Regions from separate parts of the Homo sapiens genome. Here all the other regions are reported to be linked to region 2. Evidence: microRNA targets listed by miRTarBase, many of them from high-throughput screens and not tested one by one. Region 2 holds a microRNA gene; each other region holds the end of a gene's coding sequence.
The links. Region 2 holds the annotated microRNA hsa-miR-29a-3p (UAGCACCAUCUGAAAUCGGUUA, at 2,965-2,986, shown strand). A microRNA usually pairs through its seed, bases 2 to 8, with sites in the 3' UTR of a target mRNA and lowers its output. Matches are read on the target gene's strand: a 7mer-m8 pairs with bases 2 to 8, a 7mer-A1 pairs with bases 2 to 7 and ends in A, and an 8mer does both.

Region 1: miRTarBase lists FGB as a target of hsa-miR-29a-3p. The part of its 3' UTR that is shown has no 7-base or 8-base seed match.
Region 3: the mRNA of CSRNP2 is a reported target of hsa-miR-29a-3p. Seed matches in the 3' UTR shown: 8mer at 314-321.
Region 4: miRTarBase lists COL5A2 as a target of hsa-miR-29a-3p. Seed matches in the 3' UTR shown: 7mer-A1 at 1,808-1,814 and 8mer at 1,885-1,892.

What each region holds. Positions count from the first base shown.
Region 1 is chr4:154,569,680-154,573,111 of GRCh38, forward strand. It overlaps FGB (fibrinogen beta chain), which reads left to right. Exons shown (of 8, transcript NM_005141.5): 7 at 1-120; 8 at 740-3,128. The coding sequence ends at 971. Among named protein-coding and RNA genes, the nearest start is that of FGB, 8.4 kb to the left of the region's middle.
Region 2 is chr7:130,875,088-130,879,733 of GRCh38, reverse strand. It overlaps MIR29A (microRNA 29a), which reads left to right and starts at 2,924; the gene lies at 2,924-2,987. MIR29B1 (microRNA 29b-1) reads left to right here and starts at 2,195; the gene lies at 2,195-2,275. It also overlaps a transcript of LINC-PINT not described here. RefSeq lists a silencer at 4,175-4,374 and an enhancer at 4,170-4,464.
Region 3 is chr12:51,061,187-51,064,618 of GRCh38, forward strand. CSRNP2 (cysteine and serine rich nuclear protein 2) reads right to left here. Exons shown (of 5, transcript NM_030809.3): 5 at 19-3,432. The coding sequence ends at 2,560. It also overlaps a transcript of LETMD1 not described here. Among named protein-coding and RNA genes, the nearest start is that of LETMD1, 15 kb to the left of the region's middle.
Region 4 is chr2:189,031,333-189,034,764 of GRCh38, reverse strand. COL5A2 (collagen type V alpha 2 chain) reads left to right here. Exons shown (of 54, transcript NM_000393.5): 54 at 549-2,867. The coding sequence ends at 695. Among named protein-coding and RNA genes, the nearest start is that of MIR3606, 37 kb to the right of the region's middle.

The DNA of each region.
Region 1 (3,432 bases), not on the chromosome of region 2:
CAGAGGAACAGCCGGTAATGCCCTCATGGATGGAGCATCTCAGCTGATGGGAGAAAACAGGACCATGACCATTCACAACGGCATGTTCTTCAGCACGTATGACAGAGACAATGACGGCTGGTATGTGTGGCACTCTTTGCTCCTGCTTTAAAAATCACACTAATATCATTACTCAGAATCATTAACAATATTTTTAATAGCTACCACTTCCTGGGCACTTACTGTCAGCCACTGTCCTAAGCTCTTTATGCATCACTCGAAAGCATTTCAACTATAAGGTAGACATTCTTATTCTCATTTTACAGATGAGATTTAGAGAGATTACGTGATTTGTCCAATGTCACACAACTACCCAGAGATAAAACTAGAATTTGAGCACAGTTACTTTCTGAATAATGAGCATTTAGATAAATACCTATATCTCTATATTCTAAAGTGTGTGTGAAAACTTTCATTTTCATTTCCAGGGTTCTCTGATACTAAGGGTTGTAAAAGCTATTATTCCAGTATAAAGTAACAAACACAGTCCCTAGATGGATTGGCCACAAAGGCCCAGTTATCTCTCTTTCTTGCTATAGGGCACAGGAGGTCTTTGGTGTATTAGTGTGACTCTATGTATAGCACCCAAAGGAAAGACTACTGTGCACACGAGTGTAGCAGTCTTTTATGGGTAATCTGCAAAACGTAACTTGACCACCGTAGTTCTGTTTCTAATAACGCCAAACACATTTTCTTTCAGGTTAACATCAGATCCCAGAAAACAGTGTTCTAAAGAAGACGGTGGTGGATGGTGGTATAATAGATGTCATGCAGCCAATCCAAACGGCAGATACTACTGGGGTGGACAGTACACCTGGGACATGGCAAAGCATGGCACAGATGATGGTGTAGTATGGATGAATTGGAAGGGGTCATGGTACTCAATGAGGAAGATGAGTATGAAGATCAGGCCCTTCTTCCCACAGCAATAGTCCCCAATACGTAGATTTTTGCTCTTCTGTATGTGACAACATTTTTGTACATTATGTTATTGGAATTTTCTTTCATACATTATATTCCTCTAAAACTCTCAAGCAGACGTGAGTGTGACTTTTTGAAAAAAGTATAGGATAAATTACATTAAAATAGCACATGATTTTCTTTTGTTTTCTTCATTTCTCTTGCTCACCAAGAAGTAACAAAAGTATAGTTTTGACAGAGTTGGTGTTCATAATTTCAGTTCTAGTTGATTGCGAGAATTTTCAAATAAGGAAGAGGGGTCTTTTATCCTTGTCGTAGGAAAACCATGACGGAAAGGAAAAACTGATGTTTAAAAGTCCACTTTTAAAACTATATTTATTTATGTAGGATCTGTCAAAGAAAACTTCCAAAAAGATTTATTAATTAAACCAGACTCTGTTGCAATAAGTTAATGTTTTCTTGTTTTGTAATCCACACATTCAATGAGTTAGGCTTTGCACTTGTAAGGAAGGAGAAGCGTTCACAACCTCAAATAGCTAATAAACCGGTCTTGAATATTTGAAGATTTAAAATCTGACTCTAGGACGGGCACGGTGGCTCACGACTATAATCCCAACACTTTGGGAGGCTGAGGCGGGCGGTCACAAGGTCAGGAGTTCAAGACCAGCCTGACCAATATGGTGAAACCCCATCTCTACTAAAAATACAAAAATTAGCCAGGCGTGGTGGCAGGTGCCTGTAGTCCCAGCTACCTGTGAGGTGGAGATTGCATTGAGCCAAGATCTCAACACTGCACTCCAGCCTGGGCAACAGCGTGAGACTCCACCTCAAAAAAAAAAAAAAAAGAATCTGACTATATACCATGGAAAAGCCACCACTCTGCCACTTAAATAAACATCAGGATCAGAGATTCCAAGAGGACAATCTGCATCAAGTCTTCACCAAGTGTTTTTTAAGCGAAATAATGAAATAGGGAGCAGAATATGCCTGTTGCCCATAGAAACGAGGTCTATTCTTGTCCTCAATTAGGCTTTTTTTTCTTCATAGTTACACCAGAACTAAAGTAAAAGTGGTTTTTCTGTTCTTTCTACTTCTCCCCATGAAATGGGCATATCATCTCAACACTTCACTCCAAGTCGCCACGGGCAACCTTATGACCCTAGGTCCTCCACCCCTAATGTATCATCATTGCCACCCATTTTTATGGTACTTATTGTTCTTAAGCTTATCCTCTTAATCTTTTCATGTAAGCAAAGCTCATTAATTTCTGTCTTGGAAATGCTACTACTCTCTTTAATTACTCACCAAATCCAACTTTAACTTTTGACCTGGTTTCTCTGCCACAAGTTCTGTCCCACTGGAGCCCATACTCACCTACCGCTTTGCCATCACATTTAACAGAAAACTCTTATCAACTTACTTCCTGCTTAACATTAGCTCCTTCCTATCTATATCCAAATTTCTTAAATTCAAATTTTTTAGCTGGAGTAAAAATGGTCCCAGTACCATTTCCTGTTCCCTTCACTATAACCTACATTTTTGTCACATTAAGTTTTTCCCCATTCCAGGACAGGTCAGGCCCTTTAAAAATTTCAACAGCTTTATTGAGATATAATTGATATAATTTAAAAAATCCTGCACATGTGTCATGCTGGAGCCCTATTGATTCCAACAGGGATGGCGCCTTGTCCAAGAAGAGACCCAGAGCCAGTGAATGGGACATAGGGTTTATTTAGGACTTAAATACAGATGTGGTCCAGTGGCAGTGGGCTGGACAGGACCGCTACTATTTGTAAAGAGTATGTAGTTTATATAACATTTCTACTTAGCACTCTCCACTTAGCAACCTCCATTTAACCCAAAATAAAAGGCCTTGGTTCCTTGCACATCCTGAGTTCCAACGGACAGGCAGGGAGTTCAAGTGTCCTTCACAGATAAGAAGTGAATCTCTCTGGGTTGGCCATTCCCGGATTCCTTAGCTTAGACTCTGAACACATATTCTTCTTAGACCATACAGTCATTCTCAGGGTATGCTTGAGTTAATGCTGTCGGATGCATCTGTCATACAAAGTGTTTAACATATACGATTTCATGATTTTGGAAATATGCATACACCCATGATATCACTGGCACAGTCAAGATATTAAATATATCCATCACCTCCAAAAGTTTCCTTGTGTTCATTTATTTTAGTTTTTCATGGTAAGAACATTTAATATGAAATATTATCAACAAATTTTTAAGTGCACAATACTGTATTATTAATTTTAGGCATTATGTTGTACAGTAGATCTCTAGAACATATTCATCTACTAAAAATGAAATTTTATCTCCATTTCCCCCTACCTCCCATCCCCTGGCAACTACCATTCTATTTTCCACTTTGACTGTTTCAGATACCTCATATAAGTGAAATCACACAGTATCCTTTCGCACTGTTGTGGGGATGTAAAACGGTGCAGCTACCATGGG
Region 2 (4,646 bases):
TGGTGTATGAGATATATATGATCTTATCAGACATAAGTAAAAGAAATTCATTCTTCAGGAAAAATTTTCCCCATAACTGAAGTGTCAATCATTTGAAAAAACTTCTAGGCAGTAGGCAAACACTGTGACTAGTTATTTATCAAAAATAAGCAGACTTTAGAGTTTTGTAACTGATGAGAATAATCTGGCTGCTTCTTTTGTACTTCAGTCACTGATACTGCGAATTAGAGTAGCATATACAGAAGGATGCAGGGGGTCCCTAAAGGAATCACAGAATTAGTGAAACCATTATTTGAGAGTTGCAGTGATTCTTCTGTCCTGGCACTTTTCCCAGTTTTGGTGCTTAAATTTACTATCCACTTGAAATGTGTCACTGCCTGTCACTTCACAAAGTATGTGCCTTTCACTGCAGTCAACAAGCTGTTTACATCTTTGATGAAATGATTGCCACGCATCTCCATAGCCCTGGTGTTCTATTCCCTTATTCACAGAGATTTTTTTTAAAAACCAGCCTAGCAGCAATAGGTATGTGCTGTGGATGCTTCTCCATGATGATAAAGGATGAGTTTGTGCTGGGATCTCCTTATGAAAAGATAACTGGCCAAGCCCATGAGGAACAAGAATGTTATGCTAATCAGACCCAAGGTAAACAGCCTGCAGTGCACCTCCTGACTGATTAGCACTGAACCCACTTGGAATCATCAACCACAGGCACGTGGTAATTGGATGTTCTTCTAATACACATAGTGAGATTGTAAAATGAGGATGATATATGAGGAAAGTCAGACGGAGAAACTAAAGTTCAGTTCTTAAATACAAGCCAAGGGAACAGACTAAGTGAATGGTACAGCCAGGATTGGAGCCTGGTTTTCACAAGGTGGTATGTCATGATAAAACAAGCCAAAGAAAAGGTTGGGTAGTGTTTTGAGGCTAAAAGAGACCAAAGAGTCTTAGTGAATCAACCTTGATGCGATCTGGGTTTGAAAAACCTATAAAAAACCTTTTGTTTGGAGAAAGTGGGAGAAGTTGGATGTAGGCTGGATATTTGTGGGTACCAAGGAATTGTTTGTTTTCTTAGGTATGGTAAGATTTTGTGGTTATGTAGAAGAGTGTCTTCATTTTATAGAACGACCTCAAAGTAGTTAGGAGCAGTGTATGTATGGGTGGTTATCAATTTACTTTCAAACAATGCAGCAAAAAATATGTATCTATATTACATATAATTAAAGCAAAACATGATAAAAAGGAATAGTTATTGAATTTAGATAGTATGGATTTAGGAATTCATTGTATTGTCATTCCAATTTAATGTATAAAATTTTTTATAACAGTTTATAAAAACAGTGCACACCCCTTTAATTAGGTGGCCTGGGTACATGAAGTATCTTTTTGGATGCCTAGAACACAAAAAGGGACGACAACAGGCCACCTAATAAGATGATACCAAGAACTATACCATGACGGCGAAAAAGAACTGCTGCAAAAAATAATTTGCCAAGGAGAACTCAGAGTACAAAGCCTTACCTTTGGAGTAGAGGGAAGGAGAGTCTTAAGTAAAGCTCACAAAAACCCCTAACTCATAGATGCAGTCTAAGGAATTCATTCCGGAAGCGACATTAGCATCTCATTAGTGCCATTATGTGACTTACTTGGCCTCTGAGCTAGTCTATTTTCTTCCCTAGACCCCAAAATCTCAGTAATCCTTTGGATCCAAGTTATCTCCAAGTGAAAATAATAGGTTTAGGAAAGCGTTTTTCTTCAACTTCTATGGAGCACTTGCTTGCTTTGTCCTATTTGCATGTCCGACGGACGGTTCTCCAGCACCACTGCTAGTCGTCCTCCGCCTGCCTGGGTACTTGATCACAGGATGCCTCTGACTTCTCCTGCCTTTACCCAAGCAAAGGATTTTCCTTGTCTTCCCACCCAAGAGTGACGGGGCTGACATGTGCCCTTGCCTCTAAATGATGAAGCTGAACCTTTGTCTGGGCAACTTAACTTAAGAATAAGGGAGTCCCAGGCATGCTCTCCCATCAATAACAAATTCAGTGACATCAGTTTATGAATATATGAAATTTGCCAAAGCTCTGTTTAGACCACTGAGTAACTCACAGCTAGGTTTCAACTTTTCCTTTCTAGGTTGTCTTGGGTTTATTGTAAGAGAGCATTATGAAGAAAAAAATAGATCATAAAGCTTCTTCAGGAAGCTGGTTTCATATGGTGGTTTAGATTTAAATAGTGATTGTCTAGCACCATTTGAAATCAGTGTTCTTGGGGGAGACCAGCTGCGCTGCACTACCAACAGCAAAAGAAGTGAATGGGACAGCTCTGAAGTATTTGAAAGCAACAGCAGGATGGCTGTGAGAACCTGCCTCACATGTAGCTGACCCCTTCCTCACCCCTGCCAACAGTGGTGGCATATATCACAAATGGCAGTCAGGTCTCTGCACTGGCGGATCCAACTGTGATCGAAAGTTTTCCAAAAATAAGTTGTGTCTGTATTGAACATGAACAGACTTTCTTCTTGTCATTATTCTCTAACAATACTGCATAACAATTATTTGCATACATTTGCATTGCATTAAGTATTCTAAGTAATCTAGAGACGATTTAAAGTATACGGGAGGATGTGTGTAGGTTGTATGCAAATACTACACCATTTTCTATCAGAGACTTGAGCATCTGTGGATTTTGGTATCCAAGGGGCTTTCTGGAACCAATCCCTCAAGGATACCAAGGGATGAATGTAATTGTACAGGATATCGCATTGTTGGAATTTTATACTTCTTTGTGGAATAAACCTATAGCACTTAATAGATAGTACAGACTCATTCCATTGTGCCTGGGTTAAAGAGCCCAATGTATGCTGGATTTAGTAAGATTTGGGCCCTCCCAACCCTCACGACCTTCTGTGACCCCTTAGAGGATGACTGATTTCTTTTGGTGTTCAGAGTCAATATAATTTTCTAGCACCATCTGAAATCGGTTATAATGATTGGGGAAGAGCACCATGATGCTGACTGCTGAGAGGAAATGTATTGGTGACCGTTGGGGCCATGGACAAGAACTAAGAAAACAAATGCAAAGCAATAATGCAAAGGTGATTTTTCTTCTTCCAGTTTCTAAGTTGAATTTCACTGACCTGAATTGCATGTGGTATAATACTAACAAATGGTTCACTATTAGCATATCATGAATGGTTATACTTTATAGAAATTCCATAGACTTGGTGGGGGTTTTGTTTTGGTGACGGATACCTAGAAACACTCCTGGGGAAAATCGATGACTGGCTTAGATGATGGGAAAGGAGCAGCGAGGGAGTCAATTCTGTTGTTGATGAGAAGCTGCACCAGCTATCTCTGAACTCTCCTCTCTTAGCTGGCTGAGGAGTTCCCTCCATGGTTAAACAGGTCATTTTCTTACATAAGGAAAAATGGTCCAGAGAAACTGGGTTTCTATGGCTGAGACAGAACTGTGCTAATATGTGTCAGTTCAGTTTAGAAGGCAAAGCAACAAAAGCAGGTGCTACTTGAACTAGGATCCTAGAGTATACCTTTGATATGGTTTGGATGTTTGTCCCCTCCAATCTCATGTTGAAGTGTGATCCCCAGTATTGGGGGTGGGGCCTGGTGGGGGTGGTTGAGTGATGGGGCGGATCCCTTGTGAATGGCTTGGTGATGTCCTCACTTAACGAGTTCCTGCTCAGTTAGAGGGAGCCGGTTGTTTAAAAAAGCTGGCACCTCCTTCCTCTCTCTTGCTCTTTCTTTCTTGCTCCCTCTCTCGCCATGTGACATGTCTGCTCCCTCTCCGCCTTCCACCATGTATAAAACATCCTGAGGCCTCATCAGGAGCCGAGCAGGTACCAGTGCCATGCTTGTACGGCTGCAAAACTGTAAGCCAAATAAACCTCTTTACTATATAAATTACCCAGTCTCGGGTATGTCTTTATAGCAGCGCAAAACGGACTAACACAACCTCACTAGAAGTGAAGTCATTAGACCAAAAACAATACTGAGTTTTTAGGTCCACTAAGAGGCAAAAATAAAAGGCTCTTTATAGCAGCATGATTTATAATCCTTTGGGTATAAGCACATGTATGCTAGAACTTAAAGTATAATAATAAAATATAAAAATAATAAAATAAAATAAAAGGCTCAAGAATGAGCCATCTCGGCCGCTCCTCCTCCAGGGGCCCCTGTGTGCAGCTCCCAACACAGGTACTGCACAGACCGGCCACCTGCTGTCCCCATGTGGCGTCCTGGAGAACTGCAGGGGCACCTGGTGGAATTTGGGCCTTGTCCTTCTGTTTTCTTTCTGGCCTGGAAAAGCCACTGGCCTCACAATCAAGAGTTAATATTCTATCTACCCTGCTTAAGCTTTCCCGCCCTCTCACACTGCCTCCCTCCTTTTCCCTCCTGCCTGTCACTTGTCTGGAAAAGGCCTTTTCTCCTCGGGGCTAACACATGCAATTTGTAGCCAAAACATTCTGTCTACCACACAAATCCAACGAGAATCAGGATCATTCCACCACATCTTTTTCTATCCCATGGTTATTATTTTCCCAAAACTCTTGTCTTTTGCTTTCTTACCTATTCGCTGTTTTCCCTAAGTAATCTTATTTACTCCCCTGGTTCCAAATACATCCCTAT
Region 3 (3,432 bases), not on the chromosome of region 2:
ACAAAGAGTAACACATCATTCTTTTGAATATTTCTTTAATATTACATTTAAATATTCTCTTTAAATACAGCATTATCACAATGTAAAGAACCTAAAGGGGAAAAAATTATTTTCAGAGAACCAGACAAGCTTTGGATTCACATTGAAAATACTACCTGTGTACAGTATGTGAGAAAGGAAATTGGAAAATAATAAGGGTTGTGGTAATAAGAGTCATTTATCTAGGCCTAGACTGGGACTGAAGCTATCTGCTTCTATGATCAGAGGCCTAGCTTTCCTAGCAACCATGAGCTAGAATTCTGTCCAACTCAGGTAGCACCAGAAGTGAGATGGACTAGGTTGTAGAGAAGGCCTTTCGCTTGACAAGACAGTTAATGCTAAATGTTAATATTTAGCACTTAAAAGTTTGGGATCAGTGTGAGTCACAACTGTAGCGTTAATGAAGGGGATGGACTTAAATTAAGAAACTACAGGTTTTCAGAAACATATCTTGTGGGTTGGCAATGAGCTTAATAATTACAGATTCATATTCCTGGTTTGATCCCAAAAGCTAATGTGTTCCTCATCGTGCAGCTGGAATCTACTTCCTAGATTAAGCCGGAGCCTTCCTGCAGAGACAGTGGGCAAACCTCACCCTCCCCTTCCGACACAAACTTTGAAAAAGATTCTTTTCTCCATAAAGCCAAATTCCCAATTAAGCTTCAGTCCTGTGTTTGAGGGTACCAGTCTAAGGTAGGGGAGTCTAGTTCAGTTCTGGGTAGCTTCGAGAGCTCAGGTACTTAAAAGACTCTCAACTGTGTTTTGTGAGGCTAGGGGATGGGGAGAGATAAGGATCTGTGTACTTAAGTTCCCCTCCAAACTAAAACCAAGCAAAAACTGGAACAAATAGGAAAGGCAGAATGAACTAAAAAATGTTATGTGTATTAAATACAAATCTTTTCAGGCTCAGAGTTTAGAGACTTCAGGGGTGAAATGCTGCTGCGACATACGTGATGGTTTCTGTAAGACACCAGGGCCTTAATATCCCACCAGAAAAGGCTTTATGAGCAAGATAAGTAGGAGTAGTGTCTCCCCCCCAACACAGTTTTTCACTTTTGTGTGTGTGTGTGGTTAATAAACCATACCAGAAGTAAAGTATGGTGTAAAGGATGCTTGAGAAGAATAGTTTTGCTCCCTACTGCCTCCATTTTAGAACAGAGACAAAGATCACTTTGCTAATGAAAGGAAATCAGTGCTGTTCAATGGAGATCTTAGAACACAGGATGAACAGGAACTGTATTCCTCCTGACAGAGGTAAGAACTGAATCAAACTGAATGAGTTCCATTCTATACGCTTCAAAGGTTATAATTAGAACTTGAATCCTTTGGAATCTGGGAGTTGCATGTAGCATTTAAGAACTGGTTTGGCTTCCAATTTTTATATATCATCAAGATGGAGGGGTCCAATAAACATTTGCAATTCTTGGAATTGAACTGGAACAGTATAAGAACTCTAACCCGCTATGTTGAAAACGACCATGAGGGTAGATCCAGGAAAAAAGAACAAAAACTGATTGGTGACCTTAAGATTGCCACATTCTACATTCCACTAAAGCTCAGATCTCACAAAGAGGGAAAAACCTGGGTGAAAAAACAAGCATGGCACAAATATGTCATCTTTCCAGATAGCAAGCAGCCTGTTCCCGCTGCCTCCTTTGGCCACAGTTAATGCTCCACATAGGCCTCCTATGGGATGGGTGAGCCCCAGCCGAAAGCTGCCTGACAGTGCTAGTGTCAGACACGTACAGAAGGCTCAGGCTCGTTATACCATATCCCCAGCCAATCCAGCTCTTTCTCCGAAGGAAAAAGGATGGAGAGAAAAAAGACACATAGACAAGTTTAACTCTAGTACTTAAGAACATGTGGAAGAAACAATTCAAGTTACAGACCAGGAATCCCCAGTGTGGGGAACAGGTCAGAGAACACCAAACATGTCAAATATTAACTTATTTACCAAATATGGGATTGAAGGAAGGCAGGTTACATTTTTGTAAATCCTGGAGATTTTGTACAGAAGCAGAGACCCTTCCACTCCCTCCTCCCTAGACTCGACCAGGTGACTTTCCAGTTTGAAGTATTATGACACACCAAAATGGGATATCAGAATAACCACCGAGAAAAATGAGCTTGTACTCTGCCTGGGGCTTGGGAGAGAAAGGGCTTTGCCATGCTCTTCAAATTCTCGTGTTCTGGTCCCTACAGAAAGAATAGCTGCTTGAGTTACCCAGCTTTTCCTGTGAGATCCTAGTTCTTTGTTCCAGTGGCCCAGAAAGCTTAATGTTCAGCACTACGCAGCTTTCTTTGCCCCAAGACTATCCCCAGATCAAGGTAGGGCTGGTCTCCTTGGTACTGTTTCCCTTTTAAAAAATACTCAAACAATCCTTTCCCACCCATTCCCCAAAGACCCCAATAAAATAACATGGGAGCAGCAGCTGCTTCTACAGTTTTGTTTTGAAATGGTGTTAGATAAAATAAGGGAATAAATAGAGAATGGGTAAGAGGCAGGACCTCTAGCGCCTGTCACACTGCCAGAGGGAGTTCTAAGGAAGAATCTTCAGGGGGCCGATCCTCATTCTGCTGGGAGGTCTTCACCATCCCACAGCCCTCTTCATTGTCCGTGCGGAAGGGGAGGCTTGAGGGGGACCAGGAAGGGTGGAAGTCTTCATTTTCAGGCTCCTCAGGGTTACAATCTTCGGGCAATAGAGCTTCTAGGGTGGGTGTTTTCCCCACCTCTGATTTACAGAGGGCAGCTGGGTCTGTGGAGCTACAAGCCACGAGTGAGGTAACAGGGAGAGAGAAGACATTCAGATCCTTCTCCTTTGGGAAAGAGGCTGAGCCTTCTTCCGTACCAGGCTCTCCTTTCACTCCCAAGACTGGCCTCTGCTCCACTTGATAATAGACCAGGGGCCCACTGTTCAAGTAGGATGGGCTGTTCACCGTTGAGGCAGTTGGGTGGTCTGAGTTCTCGGTAAAACACAGGACAGAGGAGCCTGGGGGCAGCTGAGCCTGGATGAGAATGGGGGCTGTAAGGCCTGGGCACAGCTCTTCGGGGACAGCCAGAGGCTCCTCTAGGATGCACACACCCAGGCTCTCGATGCTCGAGTCCAGGCTGGCACTAGAGCCGCTGGAATCTTCTTCTGCCTTGAGCCGCTCCAGTTCCTCTGCACTCTGCAGGTGCATCACTGCTGTCTCATTCTCAGCAATGAACTCCTGGAAGTCCTGGGTCTCAGAGCCCTGTGCTCCTGTCAGGCTGCAACTGGCAGTCGGGGAGGGCTCCTCATCTGGGGCTGCTGGGCGGCTCACCTGCCGCTTGCTCTCCAGCTCCAGCTTCATAATGGTGTGGAGGTAATGAGTCCGGACCCGGATTGGATTAAATTCAATGCGTCCTGCCAT
Region 4 (3,432 bases), not on the chromosome of region 2:
GTGTGTTAGCACATGAAGCATGATAGAGGTTTGAATCCATATAGTAAAGAAAGAACTGGATCCCTAAGATCTGATCCAGTTCTTCTGCAGACTTTCTTTGGTTCTTTTCCAAGTTATTTAACTTACTGAATCTCAGTCCCATGCTTAAAATTCCTTATTTCTAAAATGCGTAATTAATCCAAGATACTTTATTTTTTCCACCAATTTGTAAGTAAGTCTCCCCGCTTGCATATTGAGATATAAAACGAAAATAATACTAAATGGTGAATTATAGTTTCATTTGTGAAAAACAAAAAAGCTTTCATAATTTATGTTGCTAGTGACCATTTGGGAAGCTGCAGAAGAACAAAGGAAATTTACTTAAAGCATGAAAGAAATTCTGTTACATAAGTACACTAATATTTCACTTTATGTTTTCATTCCTTTTTTTTAAGTAGTACTCTAAAAATCATTGCCTTTACATTATAAAAGTGTCTGGGAAGGTTGCTGTCTAACATACTTGGAAAAAATTGTATGTACATTTAACCCATTGCATCATTTAATTTCAGAAGCGGAATGGAAATGTGGGCAAGACTGTCTTTGAATATAGAACACAGAATGTGGCACGCTTGCCCATCATAGATCTTGCTCCTGTGGATGTTGGCGGCACAGACCAGGAATTCGGCGTTGAAATTGGGCCAGTTTGTTTTGTGTAAAGTAAGCCAAGACACATCGACAATGAGCACCACCATCAATGACCACCGCCATTCACAAGAACTTTGACTGTTTGAAGTTGATCCTGAGACTCTTGAAGTAATGGCTGATCCTGCATCAGCATTGTATATATGGTCTTAAGTGCCTGGCCTCCTTATCCTTCAGAATATTTATTTTACTTACAATCCTCAAGTTTTAATTGATTTTAAATATTTTTCAATACAACAGTTTAGGTTTAAGATGACCAATGACAATGACCACCTTTGCAGAAAGTAAACTGATTGAATAAATAAATCTCCGTTTTCTTCAATTTATTTCAGTGTAATGAAAAAGTTGCTTAGTATTTATGAGGAAATTCTTCTTCCTGGCAGGTAGCTTAAAGAGTGGGGTATATAGAGCCACAACACATGTTTATTTTGCTTGGCTGCAGTTGAAAAATAGAAATTAGTGCCCTTTTGTGACCTCTCATTCCAAGATTGTCAATTAAAAATGAGTTTAAAATGTTTAACTTGTGATCGAGACCTACATGCATGTCTTGATATTGTGTAACTATAATAGAGACTCTTTAAGGAGAATCTTAAAAAAAAAAAAACGTTTCTCACTGTCTTAAATAGAATTTTTAAATAGTATATATTCAGTGGCATTTTGGAGAACAAAGTGAATTTACTTCGACTTCTTAAATTTTTGTAAAAGACTATAAGTTTAGACATCTTTCTCATTCAAATTTAAAGATATCTTTCTCCTCTTGATCAATCTATCAATATTGATAGAAGTCACACTAGTATATACCATTTAATACATTTACACTTTCTTATTTAAGAAGATATTGAATGCAAAATAATTGACATATAGAACTTTACAAACATATGTCCAAGGACTCTAAATTGAGACTCTTCCACATGTACAATCTCATCATCCTGAAGCCTATAATGAAGAAAAAGATCTAGAAACTGAGTTGTGGAGCTGACTCTAATCAAATGTGATGATTGGAATTAGACCATTTGGCCTTTGAACTTTCATAGGAAAAATGACCCAACATTTCTTAGCATGAGCTACCTCATCTCTAGAAGCTGGGATGGACTTACTATTCTTGTTTATATTTTAGATACTGAAAGGTGCTATGCTTCTGTTATTATTCCAAGACTGGAGATAGGCAGGGCTAAAAAGGTATTATTATTTTTCCTTTAATGATGGTGCTAAAATTCTTCCTATAAAATTCCTTAAAAATAAAGATGGTTTAATCACTACCATTGTGAAAACATAACTGTTAGACTTCCCGTTTCTGAAAGAAAGAGCATCGTTCCAATGCTTGTTCACTGTTCCTCTGTCATACTGTATCTGGAATGCTTTGTAATACTTGCATGCTTCTTAGACCAGAACATGTAGGTCCCCTTGTGTCTCAATACTTTTTTTTTCTTAATTGCATTTGTTGGCTCTATTTTAATTTTTTTCTTTTAAAATAAACAGCTGGGACCATCCCAAAAGACAAGCCATGCATACAACTTTGGTCATGTATCTCTGCAAAGCATCAAATTAAATGCACGCTTTTGTCATGTCAGTGGTTTTTGTTTTGTGAAATTCCTTTGACCATATTAGATCTATTTCATTTCCAATAGTGAAAAGGAGATGTGGTGGTATACTTTGTTTGCCATTTGTTTAAAAGATACAACGGATACCTTCTATCATGTATGTACTGGCTTATAAATGAAAATCTATCTACAACATTACCCACAAAGGCAACATGACACCAATTATCACTGCCTCTGCCCTTAAAAATGTCAGAGTAGTATTATTGATAAAAAGGGCAAGCAATAGATTTTTCATGACTGAATAAACTGTAATAATAAAACATATGTCTCAAAGTGTATCACATATGAATTTAGCCTAATTGTTTTCAGTTTCATTCTCAATATTTAGTTTACAACATCATTTTCCCCTAAACTGGTTATATTTTGACCTGTATATCTTAAATTTGAGTATTTATATGCCTAAATACATGTGTGAGTTTTGTTTGACTTCCAAGTCCAAACTATAAGATTATATAAGTTCATATAGATGAATCAGAAATATGTGGTAATACTATTAAGTCACAAACACTAACAATTTCCAACTATAGAAATAACAGTTCTTATTTGGATTTTGGGAATGCTACCAATAAAAGCCTGCCCAGACCATTCCAAAGCTCTCAAATTTCTTGCCTATATATTAGACCTGTCAGTGGATTTCTTTACTTTCATGTCCCATAGACACCTCAAATTCTACACTATAAAAAGTGAAATAATCTACATTTGGGGAGGATGGTGGCATACATTTATTGTTGATTTATTTAAAAAATACAAATGAAAATTCTCAAAATTAACAGAAATTTAAAAAAAGACAGCAGCGTCATTATCCATCCATTTAGGCAGGCCAGAAACCCGAGAGTCATTTTTGTCACCTCTCTCTCTCTCTCTCAGACCATGCCAGAGTACTGTCCTTCTTAAATATTTCTAATTCTGCCCCCTAAATATTCCCTAAGGTCATATCCTTCTCTTGATCTCCACTGCCGTTATCCTTGTCCACATGAATATTATGTCTCGCCTGAGCTTTTTCAATAGCCTCTGACAGGTTTTCAGGCATGCACTCTTTCCCTCTTCTGATCCATTCTTCTCACTACAGCCAGAGAAATCAATTTGAAATAAAAATCTGAATATGTCACCTCCCACTCCCCCCCGCCACCCTAGCTAACACAACACACAC